Homo sapiens: one gene and its partners. Changing the gene in region 4 together with the main gene of any one other region gives a genetic interaction. Each region holds a gene or a part of one and is shown on either strand. Other genes may lie near its edges.

Region 1 (2,772 bases), on a different chromosome or scaffold from region 4:
AAACCTCTGTGTCCCAGGTTCAAGAGATTCTCCTGCCTCAGCCTTCCAAGTAGCTGGGATTACAGACATGCACCACCACGTCCAGCTAATTTTTGTATTTTTAGTAGAGACAGGGTTTCACCATGTTGGCCAGGCTGGTCTTGAACTCCTGACCTCAGGTGACCTGCCCGCCTTGGCCTCCCAAAGTGCTAGGATTACAGGCGTGAGCCACCCCACCCAACCTTGTTTAGTGTTTTAACGGAGGTTTCATTACATGGGCATATTAGACAAATCATTGACCATTGGTCATTGACCTCAACCTTCAGCCCCTCTCTTCCCAGAGGTTGGTAGGTATGGGTGGGGCTGAAATTCCCAACTGTCTAATTCGGTCTTGGTATTTCTAGTGACCAACCCCCTTCCTGAAGCTACGCAGGGGCCCATCACAGATGGCTTCATTAGGACAAAGACTGCTCCTATTAATACCCAGGAGATTCCAAGGGATTGAGGAACTCTGTCAGGGCTAAGGGCAAATATTATTTTTATTATGCACTTCGCTAAATTATTTCAGTGGGTTCCGAGGCCCAGGATGCAGGCACCTTCCTTCAGCAAGGACTGTTTGCTTCCCTCATGCAGAAATGGTTGACGATAAACGCAGAGCTTAAGATTTCTTGGATGGCCAGTGATGTGAATTTGATCTGAAAATCTGAAGGGTTTCTTCCCTTGTCTTTCCTTCGCTCCCTGCACTGCTAGAGGTAGAGAGGAGTGCAGACTTTTGGTTCCTTTTCTCCCTTAGCTTGGGAGATTGTCACTGGAGGCAAGGGCTCAAGGAAGGGTCAGACCCCTTTCAGAGGCTGAGCCGTTTCAACCTCAGCTGTTTTATTAGAATAGGCAAATTCTTTCAGGACAAAAGCAGCCTTTGAGTTTTCCACTCTCCTATGGGTCAGAACTTGTAGATTTTTATTGTAAATGTATTTTACTTTTTGTAGAGATGGGATCTCACTGTGTTGCCCACGTTCGTCTTTAACTCCTGGCCTCAAGTGATCCTTTCACCTCCTAAAGTTGGGATTACAGGCGTGAGCCATTGCGCCTGGCCTATTTTTAATTTTTTTAAAATTAATGAGACATTGGTCTAAATAACCTAAACGCATTAATAGAATGGGAAGTTTCCCCACCCCCTGGTGTGCACACCCAGGTTAATCCCTTCCCCTTGAGGGCAGAAACTAAGACTAAGCTGGGATCTTACCCCTGTGATTTAGTCATTATCACTTAAGTATCTGGATGGGCCTGACCTAATCCGGTGAGCACCTCAAAGGGAATGGGCCCTTAAATCAGACCTGCCAGGGCCCAAGGAGGGGCAGCTTCTTGGAGCTAAGACCCTAGTTCTACGAGGACTGAAATCAGCCAACAACCATGAGCATGGAAGAGGACCCAGACTAAGGAACACCAACAACCAATACCTCAATTTTAGCCTGCAAAGCACTGAGCAGAGACTAGCTCAGCCGTGTCCAGACTTCCAACACAAAGTCTGAAGTGGGTGTTGTTTTAAGCCGCTGGCTTTGTGATCTGTTGTGCAGAAATACATGTGGGAACAGGCTTTGCTGCCCACAAGGGAAAAACCAATCTTTAGCACAAAGCAGGATCAGATGATTCAAGGGGACCGAACCTTGGCCCAGTCCAGAACCAGACAGACGAGGCGAGCCTCATGCCAGACTGCTGGCACCTGGCCGTCCTGAGCAGGAACACCACTGCCACACCAACGTGGCCATTATTCTAGAGGGAGAAGTATAGGGCAGTGCCGCTCAGGCCACCAGGAGCAGCTCCAGGTCCTCGCCCCATTTTAGATTGGAAATCTGACTCCAAAGAGGGGTTGTGACCGCTCTACCTCCACAGAACAAAGAGGTGGACCCAAACCTCAAACAGCAAGGCTGGTGAGCTAGATGGACCCACTGCTGCAGTCCATGAGGCTTTACAAGGACCCAGGGCCTGTGCAGGGGAGCCAAACTCCCAGAGCCACATGGCACCATGCAGCGGTCCTGGGGCATCTGTGAGACACAGAAGCTGCTTTTCCAACTTTATTTAGAAAAACAAATCCAGGTCCCAGTGCCCCCTGTACCCTCCCCGACCCCAGCCATAATTTAAATAACTTAGAGACAGAGTTGGAGGGAGGGGACAGGAGAGGTTGGGGTCACGGTGGAAGGAGGAAGAGAGCCCACTACAGCCGCCGCAGCGCCCGCTTCTTGTCCGTCTTTTTCTTGGCCGCCAGCTTCTTATCGCGCTCGCCAGCATGCTTCTTGGCCATGGGACCCTCAGCCCCTCCCGGGCCCCCTGGGGCCCCAGGGTCGGTGGAGGAAGCTTCAGTGCCACTGGCCAGGGCCCGACCGGCTTCGGCCCTGCCGCTGGGCCCGCCGGCGCCCCCGTGGATCTCTGTGAGCAGACGGGCCCGAGCCGCATACTCCTCGTAGTTCTCCAAGAGCAGGCGGCCCGCCTCCTCGTTGAGTGCAGACTCGGGGTTAGGGTGGATCAGCAGGCACTTGATGGTCTGTGGGAAGAGGCTCAGGGTCACAGTGGGTCGGGCAACCTACAGGGACCCCCAGGCCTCCACAAGAGGGTGGCCTCCGCACTGGCTGTTCCTTCTGCTCCCAACTCAGCTGCAGATCCAGGCCCCACCTATGCTGCATCCTCCCTCATCTTTGCTCCTGTCTCCCTCAGAGGCCACCTTCATGTGACCTGCCTCACAGCAGATGTTCCCAAAAGGACACGATGCCATAGGCCCAATGGTTTAAAATGTCCCTG
Region 2 (3,985 bases), on a different chromosome or scaffold from region 4:
CAGTCTCCTGTATGTTTGGAGTTCTATCATCTTAAAGAAAAATATATTTATACTTTAAGAAGGTCTCTTTTTATGCCAAACTAAAACCAACACAAATTCTCTGGGAATTTAAGAAACACACTACACAGCATTAGACATACTAATCACATATTTTTAATTCAGCAGCAAAATTTGTTTAGTAGAATGGGTATGAGGTATTTAAGTGATTTAAAAAAAAAATATATATATATATGTATACACACACACACCTCCAATCGAACACCACACTAACTTGTCACTCCTATTCCACTAAATTCCCTCCAGTATTCCCCCTTGTTTTTCACTATTTCTTGTCAAGTGGGGTCTTTGATCACATTAAAAATATAGTTGGGAATTTTCTTCTGGCAGAACCTATATAAACTGGATTCTATTAGCAAATTATTTTGTACCTGGAGAATCGAGAATGTTCTGCTGGAGTCGAGGAACAGGCGAAGGGATATACCCCTCATTTGTGCCATATATAGATCTAAACATTCCTTCAAGTACCACAGAAAGGGAAGGATTATATACATAAGTTATAATTTTAGAATAGCTTAAACATGTCTATATGACAGGTCATTTATACTTAGGGTAACTAAATAGAAATTTTATTTAAATTAGATTAAGTCAATTATTGTAACCAGTCTATAAAGTCTGGATAAAAATATTTATCATCCTAAAAACAATTGAAAGAGACTAAAACTAAAAATATATTATGAAGTTAGCATAATTCTGCAGCCCTAACCTCTGCCCCTCAACACACATGCAAGTTATCAATAGTGTCTTCAAAATACAAGTACTACTATAAGTGTTTAGTATCAGAAGACTGTAAGACTATGGGGGTGAGGCGAACGGTCATTAGGGATTCGGTAATTTCAATTCTCTTGAAATGTGAGCAAATTTGCGTTTATTAAGTAAAGAACATATGTTAATGCACACTGGTACTACAAGACAACTTAATGGTTGAATTTTAATAAATATTTAAATGTGTTCATATTACAGAAGTTGTAGCATTGTTAAATCATTCCATAAAATTTATTTTACTAAAACCACTCACCTTCTCCAATTTTCTCTATTTTGGTATAATCTTCCATAGTTAGTCAATGGGTATGGTAGATCCTAAAGTGAAGGAAAAACTGACTTAATTACATGCCACTAACTCGAGTAGTTTTAAGCATTAATGAAACACTATATGTAAAGCATTTTCCACAGTGCCTACTGCAGCATAAGTATTCCATAAATATTAATTACATTCAAACAATATTTACAAGGGTAAGGACTCCTACAATAACTTTCCATCCTTCTTGACTCCTGAGACATTGGAAACGTGTATATTCTATACTAGTGTAGTATTTAGCTTCTTCCAATCAAAATAACCCTCAAATTCAGGTATCAACTTGTCTATTCTTTCCAAACAAAAACCAGAATTATGTTCCCTTTTTGTGACACTTTAAAGTAGTACCTGCGTGTGCCAAAGTTATACCCAAATATTTCAACAAATTTATACCGCTTTATGATACTCCTAATTTTATTCAAAACATTATTTTTTAAAGTTATGAGGACAGAACTAAAATGTGTTCAGACTGTTCATTAGGAAAATTTTGTTTAAAACGACAAAAACATTTTAAGTGTTTACAGTTGCCCACGTGACAATTTTAATCTTTTTCCTCTGCTTGCTGAGGTCACAGACAAACATGCTCAAGACTTTCAAGGTACTTTTTCCAAGAGTAGGAAATATCACTTAAGCACCGTAAAACAAAAGAATGAAAAGTGCAATTCCACAGATAAAATTCTAATTATAACCTAAACAATGTCAAGGACTAAGCAGAAAAACGGTATACTTGAATCACAATGAATGGGTTAAAAAAAAAAGCTGACAACCAGAAGTTCAAGACTTCCTCTGAAGTTTGCCAATGAAACGTCAGAACTCCAGGCATAATTACCTAGATTTTTCTAACACCCATCACTGATGATAAAATCATTTATAAAGCACACTCAGAATAGACCTTTAAGTTCTATTTCTCACATTCATCTTCAAAGAAAAATCAATCCAGAAAGAAGCAGAGATGTATCTTTTTAAATGAAAAAAACTGCACTACACTGCTCATGAGAGTTAAGTGCCTGGGCTGACTGTTCTTAACAGCTCCAGGTGGGCCGGGGCCGTGGGCAGAGCAAGCCCAAGAAGGCCCACGAGTTCCAGGATCGGTTTCTCAGGGCGGCCTGGCTCTAGGGACCCGCGCCTGTACCTGGCCCAGGTGCGGTCCCACTTTCCCACCCCCGAGGCGGGATGGCAGGGCGCGCAGGGGCCGGGCCCAGGAAAGAGCCTGCTACTCCGCAGGCGCTCAGCGTGGGGGAGCGGATTTTGCTTCAATCAAGACCCGAAAGCCTCTTCAGGCAGTTCCTGAGAACAGCCGACCTCGACTCATGACTGCAGCCCCGAACCCCCACCCCCACGCCGCCTAACCCCGCCAGGCTGGGCTCCCATAGCCTCCCTCTAAAGCCAGCCCAGTGTGGCTCACACGGCCAGACCCAGGCGAAGGCCCTGCCCACCGCCCCCCGAGGCCCAGCCGGGCCCCGCGCAGATCCCTGACCTCCAGTCCGGCCTTCTTAGAGGACCCCGTTCCTCAATACTCGCCCTCCGAGGCCCTCGGCCGTCCCCTAGACACGACCCTGACCCCAGCCACTGTACCCGGCTTATTATTCCGCGGCGGCCGCAGCGGCAGCTACAACAACCGCGTCGCTCTCCGCTCAATTTCCAAGAGCCAGCTTTGAAGCCAAGTGCGAGCAGTTTCAAACTCACCGCGCTAAAGGGCCCCGGATTCACCAATCGGGTAGCCCGTAGACTTTCAAAGCAGCCAATCAGAGCCCAGCTACGCTGGGCAGGCCTTCCCGGGTGGCTAGAGCGCGAAAGAAAGAGGAAAGGGCGGCTAGAGAAAAAGCAGGAGGGCGGGCGCCAACTGAGTGCGAGCGCAAGCGCTCTCCTCCAGTCGGGAGAGTGTCGTCCTACTGTTTCTAGTCAGCGGAGCAGGAAGCTACTGTTCGCTCCGTTCTTCTTTTAAATTTTTTCTCCCAGCATTGGCACAGTTCAAATTTATTATACTCAAAATAGCTCATCAAAAAAGTGATATTGTGTTTACATCGAGATTCCATTACTTTCACTTCTAATACTTAGGGTTAGGAGTGTATAGTTATGTTTTTCTAAATGCGTGATTTGCGGGCTGGCTCCAAGGAGCACATTTCAGTGACCTTAAGAAGGAAATGGAAAACTCAAAAGACCGCCTCAAAAATGTAAAGGAAAATTTATTATTTATATCGCTGTGCTTTGTTTCTACCTCATTTTTGAATTTAATATTAAATTATTTTATTATTTACATTTTGTTTATTATACAATTAAAAACATTTGAAATGTATTAAATTTTAAAATATTTTCACATCAGAATTTTAAATATATAGAGAGAGGCATGCATTTAGAGACTGGGTCTCATTATGTTGCGCATGCTGGCCTCCAAATCCTGGGCTCAAGCAATCGGCCTCAGCCTCCAGCGCAGCTGCGACTACAGGCACTCGCCACCACGCCTGGCTTAAATATAATTAAAACACAAAAATTCACAATTCTATGAGGGGAGAGAAAGAGGCTTAAATTATGCTTTAAATAATCCAGTGTCAAAAACTCTGTCTTCATTGCCATCCATCATATCCTTGAGAGAGATTTCTGCACTTACTGCAGTTAATTTTTTTTTCCTTTTTCTTGTTCTTTCCTTCTTTCTCTCTTTCTTTCTTACTTTTTTTTTTTCTGTTTGTTTGCGGAGACAATGTCTCCTTATGTTGCCCTAGCTGGTCTCCAACTCCTAGGCTCCAGCAATCCTCCTGCCTTGGCCTCCCAAAGTGCTGAGATTACAGGCGTGAGCCACCAGCCCAACCTAAACACCATTCTAAAATCTTTTTAAAATAAACAAATAGAACAGTA
Region 3 (3,500 bases), on a different chromosome or scaffold from region 4:
GGGGCAGGAAGCTCATCTGCCATCCCGGGACAGGCCCTAGGACTCTGGGCTCACTCATCTCTCTCTGCACTGATAACCCTCTCTCTGCTGCATGAAACTGGGCTAATGTGAAAGATGAAACAAAGACAAGCTTAGGAAAAAATGTCTAAAAGTATATAAAAACATTTATTCATTAGAAAACAAGGAGATTGGCAAACATATATTCCAAAGTTGAAGCAGCTCAACGCAGTTCAGTTAGGCTAATTTAAGAGAAAGCCTTGCATTTTAAAGAGCGTGTAGGCATTTTTTTTTTAATTTGAGATGGAGGTTCGCTATTGTTGCCCAAGCTGGAGTGCAATGGTGTGATTTCGGCTCACTACAACCTCCGCCTCTGGGTTCAGGCGATTCTCCTGCCTCAGCCTCTTGAGTAGCTGGGATTACAGGCGCACGCCAATACGCCCGGCTAATTTTTTATTTTTAGTAGAGATGGGGTTTCTCCATGTTGGTCAGGCTGGTCTCGAACTCCCTACCTCAGGTTATCCACCCGCCTTGGTATCGCAAAGTGCTGGGATTACAGGCGTGAGCCACAGTGCCCGGCCTTTTTTTTTTTTAAAAAAAAGAGACAGACAAATATTTTACAAGGGAAACAGAATTCGAATTCCAGGTCACCCTACAGGATACCCTGCACAGGGAGGACAGGAACAGACTTCCTAGGATCTGTGCCTGCGAGCCGATGCTCTGAGAATGGGAGTTGTTTTCTTGGGTGTCTCGTCTTCTGTCATCTCTGCTGAAAGATCTATGCAAAGAATTAAAGGAATAAGAAAAAGCTGAGTCACAAAGATGGTGAAAAAATAGATATCAGAGAACAAGTGAGACAATCCCACACCGCACAGAAGAAATAAAATCCAAGCTGTACAGGAGAGGCCCTTCTGCGGCAGTGGGGCAGAGCATCTACACTCAGGCCCCCGCAGCAGGTCCTATGGAAACCAGCCCTCTGCACCCTAGCTGTGTGCCTTCTCGGCCGGGAACAGGCGGGAGCATCATACCTTCCTCACTGGACTCATCACTTGAGAAGACAACTTTGGGTTTCTTTTTGGAAGCTCGCTGCTGGGTGTTTGGATGCCGACGGGTAGTACGGCGGGGCTCTGGTGTGACAAAGTCATTGTCTGAGGCTGTAGAAGCCAGAGGCTGGTACCTAGAACCTAGAAAAGGCAGGAAAACGTGATTTAAAAAAGAAGAAGAAACAAATCACTGCAGGAGGGGAGGGCCCAGTCTGGTCTCGCCCGCACAGGCTGCCTTACGTACCAGTGGATGGTTTCTTGGCTGATGGCGCTCTCTGGCTACCTGCTTGGCCAATCTCAAGCTCCTTGATTCCATCCAAACCTCTGGTATGACAGGCCCGAAGCTTCTGCTCAAATTCATCTATTATAGCCTGGAGGGAGAAAAGGAGATTCAGAGCAGGCCTGAAAACAGTTACTTCTGATTAAAAAGAAACAAGGCCATGGAAGACATGGAGGCCTTAAACGCACATTACTAAGAAGCCAAGGTGAGAAGGCTCCATACCGGATCATTCCAATGATACATTCTGGAAAAGACAAAGTGATGGCAACAGTAAAAAGATCAGGGGTTGTGGGGAGAGAGGGATAAATAGGTGGAGTGCAGGGGATTTGTAAGGCAGTGAAACTCTTCTGTATGATACTGCAATGGTGGGTACATGTCATTACGTGCAGTGAACTCCAAGGTAAACCATGACTTTAGGAGATGATGTGTAAGTGTAGGTTCAGCTGTAACAAATGTGCCACCCTGGTGCAGGATGTTGAAGGTGGGGAAGGCTGTGATGTGTAGGGGCAAGGGGTAGAAGGGAACTCCCTGTACTTTCTGCTCAATTTTGCTTTGAACCTAAAACTGCTCTGAAAAATAAAAACTATTAAAAACAAACAAACAAGAATTGGATGAGATGCTGCTTTGGTTGTGTTTTTGGAGTAATAAAAAAAGAACTGGAGACAAAGATCTGGTCTTAGGTCACTCTGGCAATTTGGTTGCAACCCAGCTGGGGATAAGGAGGACGGGAAGGTGACTGCAAGAGCCGTATGCTGCCCAGGGCCGGCAGATGTCTTAGCCAGCCCAGAACCCAACAGGCATTGAAGTGTCCTGTGCTGCTCACCTTGCCCTCAGGCTTGGCCCCACGTCGCAGCTTGCCTACAACTGACAAAAAAGCACTGAAGATGGACTCATCTGACAGTTTGTCTCCAAAACAGTCAAAATTGTCAAGCATCTTACGGAGGCCTCGCTCTGTGAGGGGCAGCTGTGACACACAGTAGGCCAGGTCTCGCTGCTGCCGCTCAGTTCTGCAGATAGGAAGGGCTTTGTGAGGAACTGGGAGATCCAGCTAGTAAAGGCTCAACCTTCCCCATCAGCCTCCCCAGTCCCAGGGATGCCACAGTGGGGGCATTGAAGGGGTGAGGGATGGGCCTTTCTCCCCTGCAGGGCCCCGCTCAGCACAAAGAACCCTCAGGGAGGGCAGCATACCGGGATGTGCGGAACCGCTGACACAGCTTTTCCACCAGGCTCTCTGTCTGCTTGTCCTTGGTGATGTAGGAGAGGAGCTGTCTGCAGGAAGGGGAGATGAGGATGTTCGATGGCCCAGGGCCAGCTCTGCCATCCACTAAGACCAACCCTGGACCCTCCCCCAGCACTCGTCTTCTCTGATGTTCTCTGCCACGGCCCCTGTCTGCCTCACCACTCCCCTTGCCCTGTCCCATTCAGCAGAGAGGGACCCCACCCCGCCCCCGGCTCAGGAATTTTCACTGTGAATGGAAATTAACAGGAGCAGCTGCTAGGGAGTGAGTGCTACTGTATGTCTGCCACCATGTTAGGAACTTTATCGTATTTAATATTTTCAAGAACTAAGGGTTAAGTATCATCAGCCTCAAAAGAAGAGGAAATAGGCACAAAGAGAGGCTAAGTTATTGCCGAAGGCTGTACAGCTAAAGAGTAGCCGAGGTGGAATTCAAATACAGGTGTGTCTGATTCCTAAGCCCGTGCTATGTGGAAAATGTGCCCCAGGGCCCGGGGAGCAATACTTCATGATGGTGTGGAAAGGCTCTTCCTCCACCCCCAGCTCGGGGTCTGACAGGCGGCTGATGATATCTGGAAGGAGATTATAGATTGCGTTGCCCTGTAAGACAGAGAGAGCCATGTTAAGGAGATGAGGTGACCTACAGATTCCCTCTGCAGCCAGCCCTCAGTGCCTCTCTGCCTCTCACCTTGTGGGAGAGCTCATTGAAGAAGTTCTTGGCCAGGGCAGCAATCTGAGGCTCGGGGTCGATGAGCAGCACCGCCATCTCGCTGACCTGCCCCTTCACCTTCACCATGTCCTTGAGGATCAGGTGGGTCATCACCAGCCCCGCTGTTTTCCGCACTTGCTGAGCAGGGTCCCGGAGACTAGGAATGGAATTGCGGGTCATGGGGACCGAGACCTCCGGGCTACACCCTAACACTGGTAGAAAAGGCCCTCAGCA
Region 4 (4,004 bases):
TTTGGTGCTTTTTGTTAGTGATTGTGCAGTTTAGAATGGCCCCCAAACATAGCCTGAAGTTCTGTTTAATGTTCCGAAGTGCAGGAAGGCTGTAATTTGCCTTAAAGATAAACTAATGTGTGTTAAAGAAACTTAATTCAGGCATTAGTTATAATGCTGTTGACCATGAGTTCGATGCTAATGAATCAATGTATATTAAAGATATATTTAGGCAGAAACACGCATAAAAAAGGTTATGCATTGATCAGTTGGCAACAGTGTTGTGACCAGAGGCTTGTGAGAACTGTATTTCCCCTAGGAGCAATGGCTCAGTATTTGTTAATTCAGTGGTTGCAGCAATTTTATAGAACACAATTACTGTGAATGGGAATCAACTGTATTTGATTAACGGTGGTGATTTATAGGGACTTTAGATACCAGAAATGTTTCATAATTCCCTTTCTCTGAAATCACTGTTTTAATATGTTTAAATGCATGCATGCAGAGTTGTGATGTTAAACATAATTTTACTGTGGGTTCTGGTCAAAAAAGATGAAATGTCATTGGTTAACTTGAAAGAGACATTATTCTAAACATTATCCTCCAGAAAATTGACATGTACAGGAAGCATATTGAATGCTCAGCAAATAATTTGTTTTAGAGTAATAATCTTTGAGTATTGTAGTGATTCGAGTTTTGGAAAAGAAGGCAGTATCAGTGTTAGAGAATAATATTCTTTCAGGATTTTATGTAGTTACTTTAAGGTGCATGAAAGGAGACTCAGTTGGGTGTTAAATTCTTGTCCCTGCTTTACTTGAAACTAGTAATCTTGAGAAATTTACTAAATCATTTTGAGCCTTGATTACCTTGCCTGCAAAGTGAGGAACATTTTCAATTTAAAATTCTATTTCTTTTATTAGTATTCTTCCTGACCTTGAATCATTTCTATTCCCATCATGTCCAGTTGCCAAGAAAACCATGCAACTTAATGTTGTTTGTTAGCCATCAGATTTTATTTTACTGAACTCAAGTTCAGTCACATCAGTTACCGATAAAATAATAAGTTCTATATTAATATTTGATATATCTTGACATTTTGTATTATGGTAGGAAGAAATAAAAGACCTTCCTCAAATTTTAGGATATGGGCTTCTGTTTGTTGATGTTTGTGTTTTATGATACACTGTTGTAAATCATACTAAAGGTTTTCTCTGAAAAAGACTAGAATTGACAATACTTCATTTGTTAGCAGTTTCAAGTTTTAGATCACGGGTGCATAATTTCTTGTGTGTGCACAACATGTTGGCATTTTATCTGACTTCAAAGATGTCCATATAGATACCAGCAAAGGATAAAATGTAAGAATGAATATCATGAAAAGATGCTGTATCAGATAAAATTCTAGAGCCTAGGTTAAAAAACATAAAGGCAAACATGCTTGATATATAAAAATTGAGAAATATGATAAAAAGAAGTAAGTTTAAAGCATCAGTAATACCACTGCCTAAGATGCAGTTTATTTTGAAATGTTGTCTTCTAGTCTTCATACAGTTTAAAAATCATACTATAATCACAATTTCCAGCATTTTCCCCTTAGCATAATATATTATAACATCCATGTTTTTAAAAATATTTTATGAACGTCATGTTTAGGGATTACACCATATATATCCCATCTCATAGATTCCTTTATATTGAACATTTGGATTTTTATTTACATTTTTATTTACATTTATTTTTATCTTTATTTTTTGCTTTCGTGGATAAACTGCAGTGAGCATCCTCTGTATAAATTTTTTTTTTCTGTTTTAGGATTACTTCCTTAGGATAGATTGCCAGAAGTGGAGTTACTGGGTCAGAGGGTATGAACTTATGAACTTTTTTTTTAAATAAATTTTTTGTTCATTTTCTGTCCAGTCATTTGTAAAAAAATTAAAATAATAATGATTATAATTGTTACCTGCTAGAAAACTGTGTCTGAAGGCAAGATTCTGTGATCAGAAAAGTTTGGGAAATACCCAGGGTAAAAAGCCTTTTAATCTGATTTACCTCAGCATTTCCCAAATTAACTGAACACTGAAAATTTTTTTTGATACACTTCTTAAAATTTTGTGGAAGTTTTATATAGGATATAGTCTATGAACTACTGATGTAAAATTAAAATTGTTTTATTTGCTTGAAATATTATGTTTTATTGGTCAAAGGAATTAAACTATAAATCTTCATGCTAAAAATTATTAAAAGGGATTAGTGTTGTTTACTATGGTTTTTGTGCATGTCTTTATAAAGTCTTATAACTTTTAAAATTGAAATGTTCTATATTGTTTACTAAAGAACATTTTAATGCCTTGGTGGCATCAATACTTTTTTGCAATCATTAATGATATTTAGAAAGTAGACATATAACATGAAAGTAGAACATAATATAGATTGTACAAATCTTGTTTTTTACCCTATTTTCCCCTGCAGAATGTGAAAACCTTTGCATCTTCTGATAGTCTAGCCAAGGTCCAAGAAGTAGCAAGCTGGCTTTTGGAAATGAATCAGGAACTGCTCTCTGTGGGCAGCAAAAGACGACGAACTGGAGGCTCTCTGAGAGGTAACCCTTCCTCAAGCCAGGTAGATGAAGAACAGATGAATCGTGTGGTAGAGGAGGAACAGCAACAGCAACTCAGACAACAAGAGGAGGAGCACACTGCAAGGAATGGTGAAGTTGTTGGAGTAGAACCTAGACCTGGAGGCCAAAATGATTCCCAGCAAGGACAGTTGGAAGAAAACAATAATAGATTTATTTCGGTAGATGAGGACTCCTCAGGAAACCAAGAAGAACAAGAGGAAGATGAAGAACATGCTGGTGAACAAGATGAGGAGGATGAGGAGGAGGAGGAGATGGACCAGGAGAGTGACGATTTTGATCAGTCTGATGATAGTAGCAGAGAAGATGAACATACACATACTAACAGTGTCACGAACTCCAGTAGTATTGTGGACCTGCCCGTTCACCAACTCTCCTCCCCATTCTATACAAAAACAACAAAAGTGAGTATATTCAATATATTGTTAACCTGAGAAACTTTACATATCTATTTTAATTGTAATGAAACTTTCCTCACAGTCTTTGTATTACTAAAAATTAATCTTAAGATGTGTAATAATAAAATGAACTAGTTTTTTGTCTTACAGAAGGTAATGGAAAGTATTACAAGTAGAAATACTGATAATGGGACAATCTGAGTACAAATGGAGGGAAAGTAATTGAGCCTATTACTATGAAAAATTATTAACATCAAATTTTCGTCTAAACCTTGCGTCCCGGGCAGGGATTAGTAGCTTGTGTGGGGTGTAGAGGTTTCGGGTGAAACATGATTTGTGTAAATCAAGTAATGAAGAAACTTTTTATTTACAAAATGCAGCTGCTAGAGTGGGCTATTCACAAGTGTCACTCTAAGGCATAAATTACTCAGAAGTTGCCTCAAATTAGTTCTAGTTATTTATCATTTGAGAATTAGAAATAATGAATATTCATGTAGAGTAGACTTACAAGTTAAACTATGTTTTGGAAAGGAACATTTTAACTTGAATATACTTGTTTTATAGACATTAACATAATGTCTGTGGTAGTTCATCCTCTTACTCCTACTTGCTTATTTCTTACATTTTACAGTGATTTTAGGCCATAAACAATATACAAACTGATTTAACATCGTATCGTTTAACCTAACTTGACTTGGAATGAAGTATCTTACACACTTGGATTAATAATAATTGAAATGCTAAATCATGTTTTACATCTGCTTGTAAAACCTTACTTTCTAAAATGTGTTTGGCCCTAATTTACCTAGCCTATCTGCAAGTCAGATTTTATTTAGCTGGCATGATCTAAGAAGGACGTGACATCAAGTAGTGATTTTTCATCCATTGTACCATCCCTGTCTCAAGATGTTGAAGCAGTAGCTTTGGATCTCAGCCAGATGGCTCTACCACTAACAACTATAGCACCACTTTGTTAAGGCTCAGACCTTTTA

Evidence for each region. A genetic interaction does not mean that the proteins touch.
Region 1: changes in FBXW7 (region 4) and UBE2S together harm fitness more than expected from each alone (negative genetic interaction), as found in Homo sapiens cells (one large-scale study listed by BioGRID).
Region 2: changes in FBXW7 (region 4) and CDK1 together harm fitness more than expected from each alone (negative genetic interaction), as found in Homo sapiens cells (one large-scale study listed by BioGRID).
Region 3: changes in FBXW7 (region 4) and NCAPD2 together harm fitness more than expected from each alone (negative genetic interaction), as found in Homo sapiens cells (one large-scale study listed by BioGRID).

What each region holds. Positions count from the first base shown.
Region 1 is NC_000019.10:55,399,245-55,402,016, forward strand, and holds the end of UBE2S (ubiquitin-conjugating enzyme E2 S), read right to left. Parts: intron 2,519-2,772; coding exon 2,192-2,518; 3' UTR 501-2,191; downstream 1-500. UniProt on the Homo sapiens protein: Accepts ubiquitin from the E1 complex and catalyzes its covalent attachment to other proteins. Catalyzes 'Lys-11'-linked polyubiquitination.
Region 2 is NC_000010.11:60,777,293-60,781,277, reverse strand, and holds the start of CDK1 (cyclin-dependent kinase 1), read right to left. Parts: upstream 2,801-3,985; 5' UTR 2,708-2,800; exon of another isoform or gene 2,610-2,707; intron 1,138-2,609; 5' UTR 1,113-1,137; coding exon 1,076-1,112; intron 1-1,075. UniProt on the Homo sapiens protein: Plays a key role in the control of the eukaryotic cell cycle by modulating the centrosome cycle as well as mitotic onset; promotes G2-M transition via association with multiple interphase cyclins.
Region 3 is NC_000012.12:6,528,602-6,532,101, reverse strand, and holds the end of NCAPD2 (condensin complex subunit 1), read right to left. Parts: intron 3,424-3,500; coding exon 3,246-3,423; intron 3,158-3,245; coding exon 3,063-3,157; intron 2,590-3,062; coding exon 2,509-2,589; intron 2,328-2,508; coding exon 2,144-2,327; intron 1,412-2,143; coding exon 1,285-1,411; intron 1,182-1,284; coding exon 1,026-1,181; intron 776-1,025; coding exon 690-775; 3' UTR 147-689; downstream 1-146. UniProt on the Homo sapiens protein: Regulatory subunit of the condensin complex, a complex required for conversion of interphase chromatin into mitotic-like condense chromosomes.
Region 4 is NC_000004.12:152,410,317-152,414,320, reverse strand, and holds part of FBXW7 (F-box/WD repeat-containing protein 7), read left to right. Parts: intron 1-1,791; 5' UTR 1,792-1,841; intron 1,842-2,448; 5' UTR 2,449-2,517; coding exon 2,518-3,018; coding exon of another isoform or gene 3,019-3,048; exon of another isoform or gene 3,049-3,161; intron 3,162-4,004. UniProt on the Homo sapiens protein: Substrate recognition component of a SCF (SKP1-CUL1-F-box protein) E3 ubiquitin-protein ligase complex which mediates the ubiquitination and subsequent proteasomal degradation of target proteins.